Linked DNA regions of Homo sapiens: region 2 is linked to region 1. Evidence: fine-mapped expression QTL. A gene starts in region 1. The other region holds a variant in brackets. All regions are shown on one strand. Distances are from middle to middle. Region 1 holds the start of CCDC59 (coiled-coil domain containing 59). Region 2 has its middle 89 kb from the start of PPFIA2.

The links.
Region 2: its variant is fine-mapped to the expression of CCDC59 in whole blood (INTERVAL, PIP above 0.99).

The regions. Positions count from the first base shown.
Region 1 is chr12:82,354,530-82,362,877 of GRCh38, reverse strand. CCDC59 (coiled-coil domain containing 59) reads left to right here and starts at 4,491. Exons shown (of 4, transcript NM_014167.5): 1 at 4,491-4,655; 2 at 5,609-5,918; 3 at 8,284-8,348. The coding sequence starts at 4,502. METTL25 (methyltransferase like 25) reads right to left here and starts at 4,349. Exons shown (of 12, transcript NM_032230.3): 1 at 4,054-4,349. The coding sequence starts at 4,312. RefSeq lists enhancers at 3,561-4,121, 4,052-4,611, 4,122-4,682.
Region 2 is chr12:81,844,022-81,852,369 of GRCh38, reverse strand. No RefSeq gene overlaps it. Among named protein-coding and RNA genes, the nearest start is that of PPFIA2, 89 kb to the right of the region's middle. The variant G/TG (reference allele first, on the strand shown) is at 3,950.

The sequences.
Region 1 (8,348 bases):
TTAATAATCTGGCCAGTTTTCATCATTGTTATCTGCAGGGGAATCTGACCTCTTCAAGCTACTGTTCCTTGAAATGTCCCTGGACTATTTTAATAGCCTCTTATATTGTATTCCTGTTTCTTCCCTTAATTTCCTTCACCTTTCTTACCTTCTCTTCTCCACACAGAAACCAGGTGATTTGAAACATAAATCACACGGTATCACATCACCACACAAAATTCTCAAAGAGCTTCGCATTTCACTCAGAATAAAAGCCAAATACTGAGTACAGCCTACAAGTTTTATGTGAGGATGTCCTGGGCTACCTCCAAATGCCATCTCTCACCGGTCTCACCAAGACTGCTCAGCTGTGTTTAAAATGCACCAAGCGTGCTCCAGCTTGGGCACCTGCTGTTCACTTCACGTGAAAGATATCCCTTTCTATATATTAGCTGAATTACCTTTCACAGTATCCCATCAGGCAGGTACTAAAGTTACCCCCATTTTACAGATGAGGAACTAATGTACAACGAGTTGAAGTAAATTGCCCAAGTTAGCACAGCTACTAAGTGCTGGAGTCAATATTTGACCCCAGGAAGTCTGTCTGGAAAGCCATAATTTATGCACTGAAAAGATAGTTATTTCTAACATATTTGCTTTTTATTTTAGAGAATTAAATATTTTATTCTAGTTCTTTTTAGACGAACAATGAAGAAGAAACTCTTAGGACTCTAATGAGACAAGAAGATCACCTGGCACATGAAACCTACTGAAATGGACACACTGAGGACTTTTAGAAAAAACTTTGTTCCATAAAACACCAAATGATTGTGCCGAACATCTGTTAGTGTGCTTTTCCAAACTGTGCATTGCGCTCTGGGAATTATGTTTACTTGTAACTCCTCACAAAATATCAGCAGAAGACTGAGAGGTGACAGCGTGCCGGCAGCCCTCACTCGCTCTTGGCGCCTCCTCAGCCTTGGCGCCCACTCTGGCCACGCTTGAGGAGTCCTTCAGCCCACCACTGCACTGTGGGAGCCCTTCTCTAGGCTGGCCGAGGCTGGAGCTGGCTCTCTCAGCTTGCAGGGAGGTGTGGAGGGAGAGGCACGGGTGGGAACCAGGGCTGCGCGCCACGCTTGCTGGCCAGCGCGAGTTCCGGGTGGTTGTGGGCTTGGCAGGCCCAGCACTCAGAGCAGCCGGCCAGCACCGCTGGCCCCAGGCAGTGAGGAGCTTAGCACCCAGGACAGCAGCTGCGGAGGATGCACCAAGTCCCCCAGCAGTGCCGGCCCACCAGCGCTGCTCTTGAATTCTCACCGGGCCTCAGCTGCCTCCCTGCGGGGCAGGGCTCAAGACCTGCAGCCCGCCATGCCTGAGTCCCCCTCCCCCCCACCGTGGGCTCCTGCGTAGCCCAAGCCTCCCCAACGAGCACCGCCTCCTGCTTCACAGTGCCTGGTCCCATCGACCGCCCAAGGGCTGAGGAGTGCGGGCGCACGGCATGGGACTGGTGGGCAGCTCCACCTGCAGCCCCAACGTGGGATCCACTAGGTGAAGCCAGCTGGGCTCCTGAGTCTAGTGGGGACTTGGATAAACTTTATGTCTAGCTAAGGGATTGTAAATACACCAATCAGCACCCTGTGTCTAGCTCAAGGTTTGTAAATGCACCAATCAGTGCTCTGTGTATAGCTGATCTAGTGGGGACTAGGAGAACTTTCATGTCTAGCTCAGGGATTGTAAATGCACCAATCAGCACCCTGTCAAAATGGACCAATCAGCTCTCTGTAAAATGGACCAATCGGCAGGATGTGGGTGGGGTCAGATAAGAGAATAAAAGCAGACTGCTGGCGCCAGCAGCGACAACCCTGTGGAAGCTTTGTTCTTTCACTCCTTGTGATAAATCTTGCTGCTGCTCTCTCTTTGGGTCCACACTGCGTTTGTGAGCTGTAACACTCACCGCAAAGGTCTGCAGCTTCACTCCTGAAGCCAGCGAGACCACGAACCCGCCAGAAGGAAGAAACTCCGAACACATCCAAACATCAGAAGGAACAAACTCTGGACACGCCGCCTTTAAGAACTATAATACTCACTGAGAGGGTCTGTGGCTTCATTCTTGAAGTCAGTGAGACCAAGAACCTAACAATTCCGGACACAAGACCATACTCCTTGTGAGTCCCTAGTGGAAATCTATTTCAGTCTCCTTACAGCTCCTTAAACATACCTTGTAGGCTCCCTCGTCAGGGCATTTCTGTTTCCTGTTGTCACTAAATGGACTGCTTTCCCTCCAGAGATCTTCATGGCTCGGTTTTTTTCTTATCTTTTCAGCGTTAGAGTCACCTCAGTGAGGTCTTGCCAGGACAACTTACTTAAAAATGCAAACATTTTCCTCTTCTTCCCCTTACTTACTCCTCCCTTATCTAGTATACTTTTTTTCTTACAGCACTAAAAAAGTTTCAAATCAGATGACCCAGGTTTGAGAATCTTCCATTATCAGCTATATCCCTTGCAAATTAACTCCTCAAGTTATAATTCCACAAATCGACAATAACAGAACCTATCTTGCAAGGCTGATGTAAAGATTAAAAGAGAAAATACACATGAAGACACTTAGCACACTACAGGGTATATAGTAAATATCAAATAATCCAATTATTATTAGAATATGTAAGACAATCTGACTCTACCATTGTCTGGAGACCAGGCTAAACACGTATTAAAGTCTTACACTCTAAACTTGAGAGTAGTTTCATTTTATTTATTTAAAACTAACATGAGTAACTCATTAATTCCTCCATTCAACAAATATTCATCCAGTATCTAATGTATGCCAAGTATTTTACCAAGTGCTGGGAATACATCAGTTGACAAGTCAGACAAAGACTCTGCTCTTTTGGAGTTTAAGTAAAATTGTCATATCATAAGTGCCATATATTTATTATGAGAGCAAACTGAAGAAGTGCCTAACTTTTCAATAACAATTACTTAAAAAAACAACAACAGTATTTACCAAGTGCTATTATAAGAGGTCCCTCTAGTGATGCTTTGCATTCAGAGAATGCTCAATGAATAAAGTTCACTAGTAAGGGTAACTTTGGGAAGTCTAGAAGGAAAGTAAAAATCCCAGAAGCCTGTTGGTGTCCATCATTCTACTTCCAAAATATGCTTGCCTGAGAAGAATCTACATTTCTTGAGGGTAGGAAAAGCTTGAGCCTACAAAAATTCAAGACACATATTAGGTACTTTAAAATAGTTTTTAAATGAAATAGTGACTATCCGAATACCATCCTAGTCCAAGATACAATCATCTGTTGTACTACTGAGGTAGTCTCCTAACTGGCCTCTCAGCTTCAGCTTTTGCCCTAGTCTATTCTTCAAATAATTCACAGTTATCTTTTCAAATGTGAATTAGGTCACTATGTTGCCTAAATAATCCCAAGGGTTTCCGTCACACTTAAAATCCAAAATCCTTCCAAGGCCTAGAAAGGCCTGTGCCATCTGGCCTCTGCTTGCCTCCCGTCCTGCACCTGCAGCCCCTCACCTGGCTAGAGCCAAGCCTAGCCTGCGGTTCCCACCGCCTGCAACCCCTCCCTGTGGCTCTGCAGCTAGTGCCTTCTCATGTTCCTGACCTCCTAAATTGAGGCAGCCTCCTTACACAATCCCTACCACATTACACTGTTTTTATTTTCTACTTCATTACCACCACTTGAAATTATCTTTATTAACTGTTGAGTAATCTTCCACCACATGCTGGCATTTATAAAACCTGTGAGAGCACTGCTCCCCTAGTTTCCCTAGCGTCAATTATTATGGAATTACTAGATGAAGGAACTCCCCTGCCCTGTTTCCTGCTTTCTTTAAATTGTGGACATACACAAGCACCCAAAGAAAGAGTGATCCTGATTCCAAAGAACATCCCCACCCCACCCCTCAACTAATCCGACCCCTCCTCGGTTTCCCAGCGGGCCGCCCCGCCTCCGCCGCCACGCACCTGGTTCTGCTGGCTTCCACCAGGGGGCTCGCTTCGTCTGCCGGGACCTTCTCCTCCGCCTCCCTTCCCGCCCCGCCTACCCCACCACCCACCTGCTTCCCACTCTGCTTCCACTAGGGGGCGCGTCTCTGAGGGCAGGGCCTCCGTCTCCGACGCTGACTTCCTCAGCGCAGCCAGCACTGTCTCCGGTGGCAAGTCGACCAGCTCCTCCCACACGGATTCTGTGTAGAAATCCACGGTATGTGCATTGGAAATGGACAGGGCATCCCTCAGGAACTGCAGCAGTCCCTGCAACTTGGCACGCAGCGTGGGCAGGTCCGGGGTCACCGGGAGAGGGCAAGAAGCCGCCATGACGCTCACCCTCCGAGGCTGTAGGTGGCGCAAACATGGCCGTGAGGCGCCAGCTCGGCCCAAATTAGCACAGGCAGGCTCAGTAGAGCTCCGAGCCGGATTCCTTCTGAGCGATTGATTGCTTCGGCTTGGTGACGTATTTTGTGGGCGTCCGTCGTGGTCTTCTGATGACGCAGTTAGTCGGCTGCAATGGCGCCGGTGAGGCGGTCCGCGAAGTGGCGGCCTGGTGGTATTGAGGCGCGTGGTGAAGGGGTTTCCACTGTCGGGTACAGGAATAAGAATGTGAGACAGAAGACATGGCGGCCTAACCACCCGCAAGCCTTCGTGGGGAGCGTTCGCGAGGGTATGTAAGAAGGCAACCATTTGCAAATCCTCAGGCTTGCTAAGTTTTAGGATATAAGATTCGCTGAAGCTTGGAAGAAGGATTTAGGAACCAGACCCGGTCCTACTTGGGGCAAGGGAATTCATTCCTGAGCCCGCTAAAGCTGTGAGCTTCGCAGAGCTCTAGATAGGAAGACGGAGCAGTGTTGCTATTATTTAAACGTCTTTTCTGACGTAACCCTGTATTTCATCAGAACTTTTTTCCTATATTTTTCCTGAGAAACTGAGCAGAGAGAGTCTATGACCCTGTGAACTCTTGCGCATGTGGTAAGGTAAAGGATAGAGAGGAGGACAGGGCCAGAAACACTGCTCCGAATTCTTCCTTATTACAAATACCCGAGGCCCTCCAGCCTTCGCTTTAATTTGTGTTTGTCATTTTGTATTGCTGTCTGTAAGGTCTCTTAGATCCCACTTGGAATATATAAATGTTAAATTCAGTCTTCCGATAATTGCTAGCTTTTCAGACAACCATACACTGTCTTTTTCTTTCGTGTTGAAACATTTTCGAAAACATGTAGTTTGTCCAAGATACTAGATGTGGCATTTTCTTTCCTATTTTTTAAGCATTTATTGAAGGCTCAGATTAAGTGTTTTAGATGAACTAAGGAATTTGTTTTGATTTGTGAATACAGCTGTAAACTCAAGTTGTGCAACAGTCTGAACTGGTCAGTTTTTCTTTGAGATTCTTACTTGGATTTCCGCATGACTGTTAGCCTGGTCTTTTTGCAAAGGGCCAACTTACTATGCAATCCATCAGCTTAAATTTGTTGCTTGAAATAATTTTTTAAAGCAAAATATAATACTAGAATCTGAATGTGATGACGTAAAAAAAGTTTTCATTTGTAATTAACAGCTCCATTCTTCGTTCAACTTCTTTTCTCTGAAAGTAATTTTGGATGATATTCCTCAATGTAGGACAAGGCTTTGCTTTTCGAAGAAAACTGAAAATACAGCAAAGTTACAAGAAATTGCTACGGAAGGAAAAGAAGGCTCAAACGTCACTGGAATCTCAATTCACAGATCGATACCCAGATAATCTGAAACATCTCTATTTAGCTGAAGAGGAAAGACATAGGAAGCAAGCAAGAAAAGTCGACCATCCTTTGTCAGAACAAGTTCACCAGCCGTTGCTTGAAGAACAGTGTAGCATTGACGAGCCTTTATTTGAAGATCAGTGTAGCTTTGACCAGCCTCAGCCAGAAGAACAATGTATTAAAACAGTAAAGTATGTATTTTCTTCATTTGAAATCCTTTAAGTGTTGTTTTATTATTTAAAAGTACTATAGGATAATTTATATAGGAATTGTATTTTTTCTTATTTAACACATTTTAGAAGTCACGGTTTAATTAGGGAAACATTTTCATGGAGGCTCTATTTTTAGCTTCAATAACTGAATTAGGCTGGTTTAGCCTAATTGACAAAGTAACGTAATGGGAATTAAGAGCTCTGGAATTTGGGTTTCTTCCTCTCAAGTACAGGTGGTAACTTGATTGGACCATATGTTATGACTATATTTTTGAAAAATAACTTCTGAGAGGTGTTATAATTTTAGTCATTAACAGTATGGGTTCTAGAGCCAGACTCAACATGTTAGTGCCCCAGTGACCTCTTCTTTAAAATGGGAAAAATAACACTATGTCCTCTTTAAATTGGGAAAGATAATACTGTAATGAATATATACTTCAGAGCTGCCATGTTGCACAGCTCCAGAATGGATTACTCACATAAACTCAGGTGTTCCTAAGGTGTTTCATGACATTGTTGTGAAGACTCAGCGAGTTAATGTATATGAGGATCTTAAAGGGTATATATGGTACGTGGTTAGTGCTCTTGAGCGTTAGCTACTACTATTAATCTGGATTTTCTGCAGAGGACCAGAAATGGGTTGCAATTGCAAATGCACAGCTCCGTGACGCTTTGGTTTTATAAGAGTTAACTTATAAAAAACTATCGCTGCATACTTAAAGTTAAAAAACAATGCTAAAATCTAAAATTGCAAGAAGCTGGGTATTAACTTGGGAGCATAATTTTTTACTTCATTAAAACCGTATCTTTTAAAGTCGTGAGCTATTTGCGCTAAAAATAACAGGAAATGGGACCACGGGGGGTAAAAATGTAATTGGGGATGAAGGCAGAGACACAAAAAGTTTACTACTTTTGGTAGGCTTGATCATTATATTGTTAAATAATCAGTATAAAGTTCAGGGAAAAGATTAGCAGTAGAAATGTAGATTTGAGTTATTCTCTGATAATTGAAGTAAGGAAGTTTAAATCATGAGAAAGGAAGGTAAAAAATCATGCTTTTAAAGATTACGGTTTATTTTGGGGTGGAAACAGGGAAAATATTGTCATTGAGGAAGTTAAGCTTTTCAGGACTGGAGAAAGAGAAATACAGTGACAGCTCAGTCCACAGAGAAAAGTTGTGAGGGATTAGTCAGCTATCAAATATTGTGGTCCCCCGTTATCTGTTTGGAAGATGTTCCAAGACCCCCAGTGGATGCCCTGAAACTGCAAATGGTACCAAACCCAGTTTCTGTCAATTGGAATGTATTTCTGTTAATGTCTTTTACTTGGGAATTTAATGCCTTTTCCATCTTAAATCACGTACTGTGGCCATAACTTTTGCAGTTTGAAGTATGACAGCAAAACTAGCATGAATTTATTTTTCCTTCACAATTTGATGTATAGAAGATTTTTTTTAAAACCATAGATCTTAGCAACTTCAACATACGATTTTTTTTCCTTCCTTATTAAGTCAAGAACTTTTACCTTTTCACTTAAAGCAAACACTCAGTGTGGTGTACAATTTAAAACATATGAATTGTTTATTTCTGGAATTTTTCAATTTAATATTTTTGGACCTCTGTTGACTGCAGGTAACTGAAACCGTGGAACAGGGAAACCATGGATAAGGGGTGTGCTACTGTACTATAAAGTTGAAGGTGAATAGGACTGAGGACAGGTCTCTGGATTTGTGGACTAGGCAGTCACTAGTCACTAGTCCAAAGTCGCTAGTGATTAGTAGCTATTAAAATATTATATTGTAGTTACAGAGTATAGTGAAAAGTTGAATGATAGAGGAAAGTAAAGTTATTACTGAATCAAGGATGCTGAGGAAATGAATGGAATTCCAAGTAGTTGGATTAGCCTTGACAAAAAGGACATCTTCAGAGAGGTGAGAAGTAGTTAAAGATAGAACAGTTCAAAATGGTATCTAGATCCAAGGTATGGTGATTCATGACTAGGTAGGTAAAATGGAATAGAGAGGAGGGGCTCAGAAAACTTCGAGATTAAAGTTCATATATACACATAATTTTCTTAACATCCTTAAACAACAAGTTTAATTCTTTTTTCAGTCTGGCATTTCTATCATTCATATACTGGTTTCATTACTTTTAAAAGTTTTTTTTTTTAACATTTTAGGATTTTTCATAGCTTTCTATATTTTTTCCTAGTTGAAATATTTCTCTAAGAATCCCCATTTGTGCCTTTTATTTAATATATACTCTTAAAAGCTACAACTGTGTTTTTAATACCTTTTTGGACATTTTACTAATAAAGTCCTGTTTCCTCATCCCCCAATTAAAAGCTCCTTTACAATTCCAAAGAAAAATAAAAAGAAAACATCAAATCAAAAAGCACAAGAAGAATATG
Region 2 (8,348 bases), 510 kb after region 1:
GAAATTAGTAATTCCCCCTTCTAATCACAGGACAAAAATATAAATTAAGCACAAAGGAATTCTTCATAGTCAGAGCCTTAAATAACTCTGCTCAAAGATAAACCAAAGGAAATATATCATTGTAAGGCGTTAGATTTTTTCTGAGGAACTAATCAGAGCTTGAAAATCAATCTGCTTGATTTTGGAATCCGGCTTTCCTACTGCTACTTAATTGTTGTATACCTTAGTTTCCTATCTATGAAATGGAGCTAACAATAGCACCTGTCTCATAATTATTGTTAAGAATTGAGTGAGCCGGTGTATATAAACCTGTTGTCATGGTGCTTGTGACATAAAATAGTTCAATTAGTGTTCAGTGTGTTAACACATTTTAAGACAAAATTGCAAGTATGGTAGAAGTAATTGCTTGTCTTTAAAATAATTTTTACAAGTTAATGAGGAAAAAAATAACATGATGAACGGGAAATAGGCAAACAAAAGAGGAAATATCATTAGTACTTAAATGTATAATTTTAAAAATTCTATTTCAGTTGCACAATGATACTAATGCAAAATAAAGGAAAATGAAAAATCATGTTCTATGCATCCATTAAATAAGATATAGTGAATAATATTTATATGGGAAAATGTGATATACAGTGGCTTATCCTTTATTGATGGTGACTTTGTAATTGTACAACTGTATTGGATATACATTAGGCAATCTGTATCAACAGCTATTTTAGGTTAATTATCTTTGATCAGTAATACCAATACTGTGAATCTTGTGTAATGAAATAACACCAGTATGAAAACAAATTCACAAATAGACTCTAATAAAGAAATTCTTACATAATTAATAGTTTATTTACATAAGAATATTGTATACAATTCAAAACTAAGCACTATAAAATTTACATTAAAAAGGAAGATACTTTTTTTTAAGTTGAAAAAAGGGATAGATATTGTAAGTATGGAAAAAAGGACAAAAGAAATCTTAAATTGAGGAACAGCATCACATCACAGTGTATTAAACTGGTAGCATTTTGAGTGACTTCATTTATTGTTCTTTCTCTCTTCTGTAAAATGATTATAATATTTTTGTAATTTCAAAAATTGCTTAAAATATACATTATACCATATGAATGATATTAAATAAGTTGGTAATTATGTACATTCGTTTGTAATGGAAAGTCATATTGAGAATACACTGTGGCAGACCAAATGAGAAATATAACCAGAATTGTCTGAAAATTAATTTTTTAAGCCTCAAAAACAAACACAGGTTAAAAGCACAGTTCTTGTCCTGTATTTAGGTATAAATTGTTATAAACTGAAATTATTAAGAAATACAGGACCATCACATGAGTTTGAAGTTTGAAGTAGAGGGATTAGACAGGAACAACAAGGTATATGTCTATATATACCTTACATATATATATATGTGTGTGTGTGTATATATATATATATATATATAAAGTATTTCATATATGAACAATAAATAATGTGAAATTATATGTTATTGTTTGGGAATTCTATAATGAAATAATTGCTACCTTCATCTAGAGTGTATCACAAATCAGGCGTTATATTCCACCTAAATTTTAAAGCTTTAAAGCACAGTATCTTTTAAATAAACTTTTGGGACATATAAGGGGAATGATTAAGCTCAATTTAGGAGTTCAGATGATACTTCTAACAGAAGTTGATGTCTTAGCCAAAACTTGAAGGATGAGGAAAATTTGCCAAACCAAAAATGCTGAGGCAAATAATACAGCATTATAATAGAGAAGAGATATTGGAGAAAGAAATATCAGTGTATTTGGAAAGAGATGAAGCAGTTCAGTATTATTAAAATGTAAATTACCAGGCAGGGATATTAAGAGAAGAAAACAGAAAAATAACCAGGTCATGGGAAACCATGTATGAAATATTTAGAAATATAAGCTCAATAGTTCTTGCCTCACTTTGGGTCACAGACCTCTGATTACCTGATGACAGTAATTAACTCTTTTCCCCTTAACATTGTATACATAAATAAATGCACTCAATTATTTTGCATACAATTGTAGGGAGTTCACTGAACACCTGAAATCTGTTAATTGACTCCCTGAATCCCGTGACAGGTGAAAAACGAAACAAACTATAACAGAAAAATAAAAAACTGGTCTCATTAATGAGGCAACAATTATGACAGAAAAAGGAGCTATGATTTCAGTAAATCTTTCTTGTTTCAATTTTGGAAATATATTCCAACTGAACCCACCACTTCCCATTTCCAATACCCCCACCCAAACGGAAGCCACTGTTTAGCTATCTGCTTATTTCACTGTTTCCATTCTGCCCTCCCATAATCTGTTATTTGTATTGTAGCCAAAGTGATACATCTAAAAAGGATATCAAATAATGGTACCCACTGATTAAGACTCTAATGGCATTTGTTTTTGCGCTTAGATTAAACCCATAGTAAGTACTATGTCCCCAAACTCTTGTGCTCTGGCCTGGGTCAACTCCCAACCTTACTTGGAACCATGCTCTCCTGCTGTATCTACTTTCTAGCTTATTGGATTCTTCCGCCCCTTCAGCTACCTGGATTTGTTCCCAACTCAGGTCTTTGCATCTGCTTTTTCCTCTGCCCCAAATGCTTCCCCCAACTTTCTCATTCATTCCCTATCATTAAAATTCCAACTCAAGTGTTTACTCCTGTGACAGGAATTCCTTGAAAACCCAGCAAAACTCTGCTACCTTTAAGTTACTATTTCAATAATCTATTTTTATATCAATTACTAATAGCTGATATGTCATGATTGTTCAATTATGTACCTAGTGACTCTTCTGTCTTTCTCTACTTGCATCCCCCTAAGTATAATTTAACTGTTTTTCTTCTCAACATCCTTAAATGCTCCGCACATAGTAGGTAGTCAATAGATGTTAGATAAGTCAATTTCTCTGAATAATTGTGACTCTTAACTATTCAGTATTTAGATCTAAGTAAAAAGAAATATTAGATTGCATATATGTCCTGAACAAACGTGTTAAGTGAATGCATTATATCTTTTAGCAATTATTTTATGCTGACATTTCTGAGAACAAGAAACCTTTGCAATAGATATGGTTCCTATAAAGACTTAAGCAATTTTATCTTAAAGTTTGCAATTTCTGTACATCTAAAGGGAACTAAAATTATCTGTATTTTTCTTATCTGGGTCCTCTGCCAAATTTTTTTCCTGCTTATTTGAAGTATAAAACAAACATTGCTGAAAATTCTATCGACACTGCTACCTATTGTGAATAATACTGCAATACTATATAGTCCGTCTCAAGTATTAGAAACTAATAAAATAAAAATTCAAAATTGTACTAATTTTTAAATGTTAAAAGAATATTTATAATGTCACTTCTATTTTCTTAAAACCGTTATTTAATACAAGTAGGATGATCATATGTTTTGGTTTGCCTGTGACAGCCCTAATTAATGTCTGTCCTAATTACTCATACTTTCATTCTCAAAGTATTTCAAAATAGATGACAAATTCTATGCTCTCTATAATTACGGGTAATATTAACTTCCATATTATTTCATATAATATTATCTGTTAAATGGTGAACAGGATAATAATAATTTATTCTATACGCTCCTGCAGAGATTAAGTGATTTAGTGTATTTAATGTGCTTGCAAAGATACCTGGCATATAATGCATATGAAATAAATATTAGCTACCATTATCTAGTTCAGATGGAAAGGACAGACTAGCAGAAGCTGCCCATTTATGTGGAAGAGCAAGCATTGAATGAATTCAGAATCACTGCTCCATCAAAGGTATCTTTTCCTATTTAGTTACATTTTATTTTCTCCCGATATTTTCATGTTTCCTGGTTTTCTTCTGTAAATTGAAGCCAGATAAACACTCAGGCCCCGTGTAGTTCTTTAAAATTATTGCTTTCCTCATAGGTTTTTTTTTTTTTTTT[G/TG]TATTTGACTACGTTAGGAACAGGCTATGCTGAATAAAATAATATGAGAAAACAGCATGCAGACATTAGTTGGTCAGGAACACAATTTTCTCTTCATGTTGGGAAAGAATTGGATTTTGGAATATGCAAGAACGGGAAGACTAAGATAATCTGATTGCATGTATCATGCATTAACTACCCTAACTCTTCTAGATATCTAGTTTTATAATATAATTTGTTTTCTTATATAAATCAGTTTCAGATGTAATAGACTCACACTGAAACACCAAAAGGCTGTATTATTCATGCATTCATGAACATTGACTTGCATTTTATGATAAGAAGTGTTTTGGGATTGCTTTCTTTGTGATCTTCAAGACATTAAGGCAATATTTAAGGACTACAACTCTGTTGTTGTTCTTTAAGGGACACATGATTTTATCTCTGTAACTTATATATGAAGATTTCAGTCATATTAAATTTGAAGTTGTTTAATTTTCCAGAAAACATTTCTAGTAGAAACAATTGGTCAGGAGCCCCTCATTTACAAATATGCCTGTGTGGAAGTTTATAATTTATTTTTGAATGTTAAATTACCAAAGTATTTGTAACTTAGTTATTTTAGTTAATTTAAATTAATGTTATAATTAATTTTTACTTAATTTTTAAATTAATTTTTACTTATAAATTAATTATGAAAATCTTTGGAAAATAGTGTTGATTTATATTTGCTTTTTATTAAACTGTACTGATAACCATTGATCCTTGGTTTACGTTGCCATTTAGGTTTAAATATATTCTTCCATAAGCAGATCATTTTGGGAAATCTACAGAACCATGTTAATCCTTGACAGAAAACAGAGGAAGCTTCCCTAACTCCCAAATTTGACTCAGGAAAAAAGAAAATTTTACTACTTATTTTTAGTTCACATTTCCTCAGATAATTGTCTTTCATGAGTATATTCATGAGAAATGTTTTAATATTATTTTATTTAATTTTTAAATTGTTTTATTTATTTTTTATTGTGTATATTATGTGCAATGTGATGTTTCAGTATAGGTCTATGTTGTTGAATGATTAAATCAAGCTAATTAACATATCCATTAACTCACATACTTATTATTTTTTGTAATGAGAACATTTGAAGTCTACTCACTTAGCAATTTTTAAGTATACAATATGTTTTGTTAATTATACTCATCGTAATGGACAACAGATGTCCAGAACTTATTCCTCCTGTCTGACTGAAACTTTGTACACTTTGACCAACATCTCCTCATCCCCTCTGTTTGGCCCCCATCCCCAGGTAACCACCATCCTACTCTCTGCTTCTATGAATTCACATTTTTTAGTTTCCATGTATATGTGAGATCATACAGTATTTATTTTTCTGTGTCTGGCATATTTCACTGAGCATAAAGTCCTCCAGTTTCATTCACCTTGTCACAAATGACAGAATTTCCTTCTTTTCTAAGACTGAATAGTATTCTATTGTGTGTATATACTCATTTTCTTTGTTTATTCATTCACTGATGGACACTTAGTTTGATTCGTATCTTGGCTATTGTAAATAATGTTGCAATGAACGTGGGAGTGCAGATGTCTCATCAACACGCTAATTTCAACTCCTTTTTGTATATACCTTAAAGTTAGATTGTTGGATTATATAGTAGTTCTAGTTTAAAATTTTTAAGAAACTTACCTTCTGTTTCCCAAATTGGCTGTACTAATTTTCATTTCCACCAACAGTATATAAGTGTTCTTTTTCTGCATCCTCACCAACATTTGTTTTTTCTTGTGCCAACTATGCATTGAACAAAGGTCTAATGTCTAGAATCTGTAAAGAACTTAAACAGTTCAGCAAGCAGAAAACTAAATAACCTCATTAAAAAGTGAATAAAGAATATGAACAGCCACTTCTCAAAAGAAGACATACAAGTGGCCAATAAACATGAAAAAATGCTCGACATCACTAATCATCAGAGAAATGCAAATCAAAAACACAACAAGATACCATCTTGCACCAGTCAAAATGGCTATTATTTAAAAATATTCACAATAGCAAAGACATGGAATCAACCTAAATGCCTATCAATGGTAAACTGGATAAAGAATATGTGATACTTATACACCATGAAATACTATGCGGCCATAAGAAAGAATGAGACCACATCTTTTGCAGCAACATGGATGGAGCTGGAGGCCATTATCCTAAGTGAACTAACATAGGAACAGAAAAGCAAATACTGCATGTTCTCACTTAGAAGTGGGAGCTAAAATTTGTTCTCAAATGGAAATGATGTAGGTAACAATAGACACTGGGGCCTTCTTGAGGGTGGAGGGTGGGAGGAGGATGAGGATTGAAAAACTATCTATCGGGTACTATGCTTATTACCTAGGTGACAAAACAATCTGTACACAAAACTCCTGAGACATGCAATTTACCTATAAAACAAACCTGTGCATGCATTTTTTTTTTTAAAAAAGAGAGTAAATAGAAATTTTTAAGACCATTGCCTTAAAGATGTTACAATTTTTTTTTAATTGGGAGGTCATCAGGCTGAGATGACTCCAACACTTTGGGTTCCTATATAAGCAATCCAAAAGCCCAATGTAAACAGTAAAACAAAACTAAAGACTTTGCCAATCAGAAACCACCAACTAACCTCTACCTAGAGAATTTCCACTCTAATAAATCAAATATATTTTCTTAAAAGCACATTGCCCACACTGTTGCAGCAGAGCTCTGTGAACTTCTTTTGATTTTGAATGCTGCCCAATTTTTGAATTCTTTTTGCTCAGATAAACTCTTTAATATTTGAAATAAATAAATAAATAATAAAAACTTTAATAGCAGATGTTGGAGAGGTTATAAAGAAAAGTGAAGGCTTATATACTGTTTGTAGAAATGTAAATTAGTTCAGCCACTGTGGAAAGCAGTTTGGATATTTCTCAAATAACTTAAAACAGAGCTACTATTTGACTCAGCAATCCCAGTACTGGATATATACCCATAGGAAAATAAGTTGTTCTACCAAAAAGACACATATATTCGTGTGTTCTTCACAGCACTATTCACATGGAAGAGACATAGAATCAGCCTACCTGCCTATCAACCGTGGATTGGATAAAGAAAAAGTGGTACATATACACCATGGAATACTACACAGCCATAAAAAAGAATGAAATCATGTCCTTTGCAGCAACATGGATGCAGCTGGAGACCATTATCCTAAGCAAATTAACACAAGAATAGAAAAATAAATACCACATGCTCTCACTTATAAGTGGGAGGAAAATATTGAATACATATGGATATAAAGATGGGAACAATTGACATTGAGGACTACTAGAGGGGGGAAGTAAGGTGGAGGATGAGGGCTCAAAAAGCACCTATTGGGTAATATTATTTTTTAACTTATAAAAAGTGTCAAGGAGCAAATACAGTGCACTTAAATATTTCATTATTGTGCAAAAATACATTCTTATTTTAGTCAAATTCATCATCTGTTTCAGTGGCTTGGATTTTATAATACTTCCCACAGAATAAAACAGAAAGTAAAGATAATTTGCCATTTAATTAGTTGTGAAATACACAGAAATCCTATATGATTTTAAAGAGTTGGAGAATGATGGCTTGTGAAGGGGGTTTGTTTCTGTATAAAACAACAATCTGATGACTGATATTGTGGAAATGACTGAGAACATGTTAACCAAGTCAAAAAGAATTTCTAAGAAATAATATTTCTGATATAGTCTGTCAAAGAGTAATTTTTACACTAGATTATATTTATACATCCAATACAATTCATAGCTTATTGATTATTGAATGGATTACTAAATATAGCACTACCAGTTTATCAAATTCACAGCTGGGCTATTTTAGTTATTGACTCCCTTCAACATTAAAGAAGGCTGGAAAACAATTGCTGAACCTCTATACATTCATTTTTACTGCATTGTCTGAGACCAGTATACAAAGTTGCTATAAGCTGGTTTTAAGACAGTTACTATTTTGGATCATTCATGTATTCATGTATTAAATAAATACCTTGATAAATATAAAAGAAGCAGGCACTTATTGTGAAAAACTTTGGAAGTTCATTATTGACAGAATAACATGTTTACTTCAGATAATATAAAATACTTTTTGAATCAAATAGCATGTTCATATTATGGGCTTAACAAGTTGGATTTAGTGTTTATACTCTTATCAAGTTGATTGACATTTCTTTTAGCTTCTTATAGAAGGAACTGATTGTTAACAGAACTAGTAAATATCAACAAATAGTTCCCAGTAAAAGCATTACTTATAAATTGCTAACATTTACTAAGATTTTACTGTCAGTGAGGCTATGTGTTAAAATGTTCTTCACAACAATTCTAGGTCAGTTGTTAGTATATGGTAAACTAAGGTAG